2 linked regions of the Homo sapiens genome follow. The protein of the gene in region 1 purifies or fractionates together with the protein of each later gene. This does not show direct contact. Each region holds a gene or a part of one and is shown on either strand. Other genes may lie near its edges.

What was found.
Region 2: the proteins of TBC1D25 (region 1) and DCLK1 purify together in Homo sapiens (affinity purification with mass spectrometry, with the first as the bait; one large-scale study listed by BioGRID). This does not show direct contact.

Annotation. Positions count from the first base shown.
Region 1 is NC_000023.11:48,545,839-48,549,978, forward strand, and holds part of TBC1D25 (TBC1 domain family member 25), read left to right. Parts: intron 1-3,675; exon of another isoform or gene 3,676-3,806; intron 3,807-4,140. UniProt on the Homo sapiens protein: Acts as a GTPase-activating protein specific for RAB33B. Involved in the regulation of autophagosome maturation, the process in which autophagosomes fuse with endosomes and lysosomes.
Region 2 is NC_000013.11:36,107,383-36,110,882, reverse strand, and holds part of DCLK1 (serine/threonine-protein kinase DCLK1), read left to right. Parts: intron 1-3,500.

The sequences.
Region 1 (4,140 bases):
AGTGAGGGCTTTCTTGCTGCATCCTCACATGACAGAAGAGCAGAAGAGAGTGAACCCACACCCTCAACCTCTTTATAAGAGCCCAAATCCGCTGGGCACGGTGGCTCATGCCTGTAGTCCCAGCACTTTGGGAGGCTGAGGCAGGCGGATCACCTGAAGTCAGGAGTTCGAGACCATCCTGGCCAACATGGTGAAACCCTGTCTCTACTAAAAAAAATACAAAAATTAGCCGGGTGTAGTGGCACATGCCTATAATCCCAGCTACTCGGGAGGCTGAGGCATGAGAATCGCTTGAACCCGAAAAGCAGAGGTTGCAGTGAGCCAAGATCTTGCCACTGCACTCCAGCCTGGGTGACAGAGCGAGACTTCATCTCAAAAAAAAAAAAAAAAAGAGGCTGAGCACGGTGGCTCACGCCTGTAATCCCAGCAGTTTAGGAGGCCGAGGCGGGCAGATCACAAGGTCAGGAGATCGAGACCACCCTGGCTAACACGGTGAAACCCTGTCTTTACTAAAAATACAAAAAAATAGCCGGGCGTGGTGGCGGGTGCCTGTAGTCCCAGCTACTCGGGAGGCTGAGGCAGGAGAATGGCATGAACCCGGGAGGCGGAGCTTGCAGTGAGCCAAGATCGCACCACTGCACTCCAGCCTGGGCAACAGAGCAAGACTCCATCTCAAAAAATAAATAAAATAAAAAATAAAAAAAGAGCCCTAATCCCATCTGTGAGAGCTCTACCCTCAGGACTTAATCACCTCTTAAAGGCCCCCACCTCTTAATATGATCACATTGGTAATTAAATTGCAACACATGAATTTGGAAGGACACATTCAAACCATAGCAGTGTGGTAGTGGTATCATATCTATTGAAGGAAAATATCCTTGTTCTTGGGAAAGACACAGTTAAGTATGAAGGGGTAAAATGTCATGATGTCTGCAAATAAGTTGGCAAAAATAATGTGTTTATATACAGAGAGAGTGAGATAAAGCAAATGTGGCCCAAAAAAATGTTAATAGAGGATCTAGATGAAGTATGTATGGGTGTTCAGTGTATTCTTTTAACTTTATTGTAGGTTCAAAATTGTTTTAAATAGTTGTGGAGTGGAAGATGTGGTTCCCAGCCTCAGGAAACTCATGTGCCCATTTGGGATGAGTCGAGCACTTTATTGATGTCATAATAACATATAACTAGCTAATGTGTAGTGAACACTTAGGGCCATTCTGTGCACATAATATTTTTTCACTGAATTGTCAAAATAATCCTATAGAGTAGGGACAATCATTTTCCCCATATTATAGATGAGGAAACTGAGGCTCAGAGAGGTGACAGGACTCGTCCCAGTTATACAGACAGTAAGTTGAAGAGCAAGATTTGAACTCAGGCAGTGGCTGAACTGGCTCCAGAGTCCTTGTTCTTAACCATTTAACTCTACAACATTTTGGACTTGTTAAAATTGGCAGCTTTGCAAAAGAGAGACAGAGGAGAGAGAGAAACAAGAGTCAGAGGGAAAGATAGTGACAGAGATGGGCAGGAAGCCAAATAGGAAAAGCCAGGTAGCCAGACACACAGGAACCTCTGCCACTGAGTAGCCATATGTGCTTATGTCAGTCACTTAATTCCCTGGGCCTTGTTTTCCTCACCTGTTAAAGAGACACAGTAGCACTATTTCAGGAAAAAAATCAAATCTGCATGGCTACGAAACATGTGGAGAAAACCCCAAGTGCATGAGAACTGGGACGAATGCCAGTAAAGCAGAGAGACAGACAGAAAGACACCCAGTAGTCTGGCAGGAATACATCTTTAAAAGGTTATCTTTTTAGGCCAGGCGCCGTGGCTCACGCCTGTAATCCCAGCACTTTGGGAGGCCGAGGCGGGTGGATCACCTGAGGTCAGGAGTTCGAGACCAGCCTGGCCAAACATGGCGAAACCCTGTCTCTACTAAAAATACAGAAATTAGCCGGGCGTGGTGGTAGGCGCCTGTAATCCCAGCTACTCGGGAGACTGAGGCAGGAGAATTGCTTGAGCCTGGGAGGCGGAGGTTGCAATGATCCGAGCTCGTGCCACCGCACTCCAGCCTGAGTGACAGAACTAGACTCCATCTCAAAAAAAAAAAAAAAAAAGCCCTCTGTCTTATTTACCAAATTCCTGCACAACATCGGTCTGTTTCTGAATTCCTGATTCTCTTACGTTGATCTATTTATTAAATTATAAGCCAATTCTATGTTGTTTTAATCATTGTAGTAGTTTGTTTTCTGTTTGTTTGTTTGGTTTTGAGGGTTTTTTTTTTGTTTTTTTTTTGAGACAGGGTCTCACTCTGTCATCCTTGCTGGAGTGCAGTGGCCCAATCTCAGCTCACTGCAGCCTCCACCTCCCAGGCTCAAGCAATTGTCCCACGTCAGCCTCCTGAGTAGCTGGGCCTATAGGCACATGCCCCCATGCCCAGCTAATTTTTGTATTTTTTGTAGAGACAGGGTTTCGCCGTGTTGCCCAGGCTGGTCTTGAACTCCTGGACTCAAGCAGTCTGCCCGCCTCAGCCTCCCAAAGTGCTGGGATTACAAGCAAGAGCCACCGCACCCAGCCTTAATCATTATAGTTTTATGATATGTTTTCATGTTTTCCTTTTTAAAAAATTTTCTTGAATATTCTTGTTCACTTACTGTTCTTTTTATTTAATAAATCAGCTTATTATTCCATTAAAATCCTGACGGGAATTTGATTGGAGTCATATTTTTAAGAGAAACTAATCTTTCATTACCCAGTAAATACATTCTTATTAAAAATAAAAGCATTTTAAATAATGCTGAAGTCTCCTGGGAACGCTATGCCTAATCTCAATCCCCTACCCTACCCTTTTTGCCCCGAGGGAATCGGTTTGATGTGTAACTTTGCATGTCCTTTACTTATTTACACTCCCTACACACACATTTATCCACATATGTGAGTATATTCATATTTGCGTGTCTGTACACATAAACGGTATGTGTTTAACATAAGGTATTCTACACATTAATATGTAAGTGTCCAATATATGGAGCTATCATTAGACATATTAATGGCATTCTCATGATCATTTTCATGGCTGTGAAAGCAACAGACATGTTGGGACTGTTTGGATGGCCCAGTCCCTCTTTCTGGGAAAAAGCCAGTTTCTGTCACCTCTACAGTTGGGAGATTACAAAGCCTAGACCTTTGACCAATTTGTACTTTTCCGATATGAATCTTTTTTCTTTTTGAGACTCTCTTTGTCACCAAGGCTGGAATGCAGTGACGCAAATATGGCCCACTGCAGCCTTGACCTCAAGCTCTCCTCCTGCCTCAGGCTTTCAAGTAGCTGGGACTACAGGTGTGCACCACCATGCCCAGCTAATTTTTGTATTTTTTGTAGAGACATGGTTTTGCCATGTTGGCCAGGCTGGTCTCGAACTTCTGACCTCAAGTGATCCACCCACCTCGGCCTCTCAAAGTGTTTGGATTACAGGCGGGAGCCACCGTGCCCAGCCCCCAACCTCCTTTCTATCATAGGTACTGCAAATATTTTTCCCAGTTGATCTTTTGTTTTTTGGCTTTGCTTACGGGATGGATCTGTTTTGTCCTATCAAAATTAAACATTTGATTGCACGCCTACACAGATATCTATCTTTTTCTTTATGATTTCTGAGTTTCTCCTTTTTATTGCAGGTGGAGGGACAGAGTTTCACTCTCATTGCCCAGGCTGGAGTGCGATGGCGCGATCTCGGCTCACTGCAACCTCCGCCTCCTGGGTTCAAGTGATTCTCCTGCCTCAGCCTCCCAAGTAGCTGGGATTACAGGCATGTGCCACTACACCTGGCTACTTTTGTATTTTTAGTAGAGATGGAGTTTCACCATGTTGGTCAGGCTGGTATCGAATTCCTGATCTCAAGTGATCCACCTGCCTGGGCCTCCCAAAGTGGTGGGATTACAGGCATGAGCCACTGTGCCTGGCTGAGTTTCTCCTATTACTTTGGAACATGTTCCCCATCCATAAGCTTATACAAATATTCTATATTTTCTTCTACTATGCTTATTGTTTTCTTTTTTACATATAAATCTTTTCTCTGTCAGCATTGTGATAAGCAGACCTAGCTTTAAAAAAATCAAGATAGTCAATTATGCCAGCATCAT
Region 2 (3,500 bases), on another chromosome or scaffold:
CTCCAGCCTGGGTGACAGAACAAGATTCCGTCTCAAAAAAAAAAAAAAAAAAAAATTGATTATATGTACAGCATGATTTGCTAGTCATTCAGAGTTTACCAGATTATACTTTTGAGCACACTATCTTTGCTGGAAGTTTAGTTTTTAATGTGGTGCTATCAAAATGCTTTTTTAAAAAATTTTTTTTGAGGGATAATTTGAATGATTTGTATGTATAGTAAATATTAAAATTAAAATGATCCATGAATTAAAAGATTGATCTTATTAAATAGAAGACTCCTCCAAGTTCTTAAAGGCTAGCGCATTCAAACTTTCTGAATTAGAAATAGATGCTAATCCTAGAAAGAGTATTAGTCATGAAAGAATACTTCCCTTAGGGATCCATTCAGATGCTCTAAATTATAAAATTCATTAGGAAAGAAGGAATATGTGCCAGTTGTTCATTTGTATTTACCATCTTTTGCTTGGCTTATAACCCTTGCCCTAAGTAATATGCGGATAAGGATTCTAATGGATGAGATTCTCTAATGAATGAGACTTAGTCTTCTATATTTAAGAGTCTGTAGCCTAAATGTCGTAAATCTATCAATGACCAGAAAGTTCATGCTGGCTTGTGAATTATAGTAGCAATAAGATGGCAAACTTCACCTTTACACATTTTGTAAGCCCTTCACTGGCTCCATTTCTAATGAGTTATTCAAACATCTTGTAGTTCTGAATTTTCATATATTGAATTTTCTCAAGATGGGAGTTCATCTATTTTCATAAATATTTACCTATTCAAATAAATATTTTTATAAAGTGTCTCATTAGAGCAAAGAATACATATGGATAAATGTTCCCTCTCCCTGCTGCACTTCAGAATTTTGGGAGTTCCAAAATGCTACTCTGAATCTAAAAATCGGCTTTAATGACTTTAGCTAAAATTTGCCATCAGCTGATTATTTAATTTTGTTTATTTCAGGAATAAATCCCTACAATAGGTATGATGTTCTCAGTTGTTTTCTTCCTTACTGAATTTGTCTAGAATTAATATTTGATAATGGCTAGTTTACTGTGGTTTACATGTAAATAATCCAAAGTCATGGGACGGAATCCGAGGTTTAATGTCAAAAAACCAGGATTCAAGTCTTGGCTCAGCCGTAGATTCCTTATGTTTTTAGCAAAACACTTAACTGAGCTTCATTATCCTCATCAGTGAAACACAGATAAAATGATTACCTGTGTTTTATAGAGTGCTGTGGGTCAACTATGATGATACATGCAATAGCAATTTTGAACTATAATGATGATAGCTTTATTGAGCATTGTTCAAAGTGCTTTGCATGTATTAGCATGCTTAATCCTCATAACAACTTGCTTATTATCCCCATTTAACAGATTAGAACACTAAGGCACAGAACTCGTTAAAAACATGCACAAGACCACACAGCTACGATTTAAACTGGTCTTGCTCCAGAGCTTGTGCTGGTAACCACTGTACCACTTTAGATTATGTTAAGGCACCAAACTGATGTAAATGTATTGAGAAAGAATTGTCAAGGGAGTAATTTGTCCAAAGAATATCATCTGAAACATTTCTGCTCTGTCCTTTTTTTCCCTGCAGTCATTCTGCTGACTGTTGTACTCAACTGTTGTTTTGTCAAGCGTTCAGTTTGCTGCTGTGGCATTTCCCCTAGTGTTGGCATGTTCTCTTCATAGCAGGATCAGTGAAAAGCTGCAGAGGAATTGGATGATAAAGTGGAAAGAACATAAAGACTTATTCGTTGGGTTCCCAGTGAGAACAAAGATGCTTCCTCATGGACCCCAGGAGTCTTTAGAATCTTTTTGGCTCAAAAGAGAAATCTGTCCCATAAGCAGTTTGTTAGAGTAGAATTTTTGACAACCCTGGCAGAGACTGAGGCTTGATAAGCCTCTGAGAATAAATCAGTTTCCTCCACGCTGTCCTGTGGAATAACGCTTGGCCATAGTGGGGTGGCACCTGCACTGCTACCATCTTGGCCTGCCTGTGGTGGCATCGGGGTCCATATGCTGCCAACAAGATGCCACCCTAAGATTACTTGTCCCACCTTTTTAAAAAATAGTTTAACTGAACCCTCACATCAACTCCATAAACAATATGGGAATTCCAGTGCCCAGTAAAGAATTTCATGTTTTTGGGTTGAGGAAATAGAATTGTTTAAAAAATGAATTGCTTGAGTGCTTTGAGTAAATGCGTAGAGAGGAAGATGGTTTTGTAGATTGCCTTGGGGCAGCCTACAGATGTATCCATGGCATGAAAACTGTTGACGCTGGGATTTTGGACAATGGAACCATGAAAGCCGGAGCCTGCTGTTTAATATCTTACCCAGAGGAGACGGACACCGGAGGGCACAGACCACATGCTGTTCTCACTTGTTTCTACCACCACTCCTTGCTCAGTTGCCTCTCGGGTTTGTGTTAGCCCTAAGCAAAGAGTTCATTGAACAGTACTTTTTTTGATGTTTTTAGACTGAGATAAGGAAATAAACGTTTTGGAAATGCTGCACAATCTAGAAAAGATTTTGCAGGAAGCTGCAATTGGCCAAGATGACCGTTGTGGTTCATAAGCAGCCTATGTGTGAGCAAACCCTTTCTAATGATTTCAACTCCATTCTTTATTCAGGGGCACTGAAGCTTCAGCAAATGGTTGCCCCGACCTTCCTCCTCTTCCTTGCAACTTTCAGGGTGACTGCTCACCAGGTCATCAGTCCTTTTGCTGGCATGGCTGGCAGTTCAAGGAAGCACTTACCATGCCTTAATTTCAGTGATGCATTTTTTTTTTTTTTAAATCTGGGCCTTGGTTAAAGACCTCCAAAGAAGAAAAAGGGACATTTTCTAGCTAACAGTTAAAATCATGTCCCCTGAACCCATGTCCAAGGGGAGGATCTGCAGGATCTTAGAGTCTGAGAGTCTCTTCCTCTTGCCCAAGTCCAAGCTCTGGATGTTGGAACTTTGCTGTGGGTTATTCACTTAACCTGCCAAGCAGTTACTCCCAGAGGCCATTTGGAGTATAACTATTTTTTAAGTGCTTAAAATAAGACTAAAAGTTACCAGATTTGCTACAAAGATACCCTTGCATATCTCCTGACTCCTTTTATGGAAAAGCAAATCTGGCTTTCTTGAGCTGCTAAATCTGTGGTTCTTGAATCCGTCCTTAGAAACATAGAACAGCTAGTGCCTAAGTAGGTGATTTATACTATAAAGAACATAGATAGGGCACTTCCCAATGATCCCCTTCCCACTGAAATACAGCAATGACAAACTGGATTGCTCTTTAAGTAGAAAATAAATGCACATCCCTATCTTATCTACTTTTCAACATCAAAGATCTGTACAACATTGCAGCATGCTTTAGTGAAGAGAAAAAAACCCAGAGATGTTATATTTTTATCTTATAGACATTTCACATAGGCCATGTACTTTATAAAATCTACCACTGCTAGTGAGTCGAGATCGCGCCACTGCACTCCAGCCTGGGC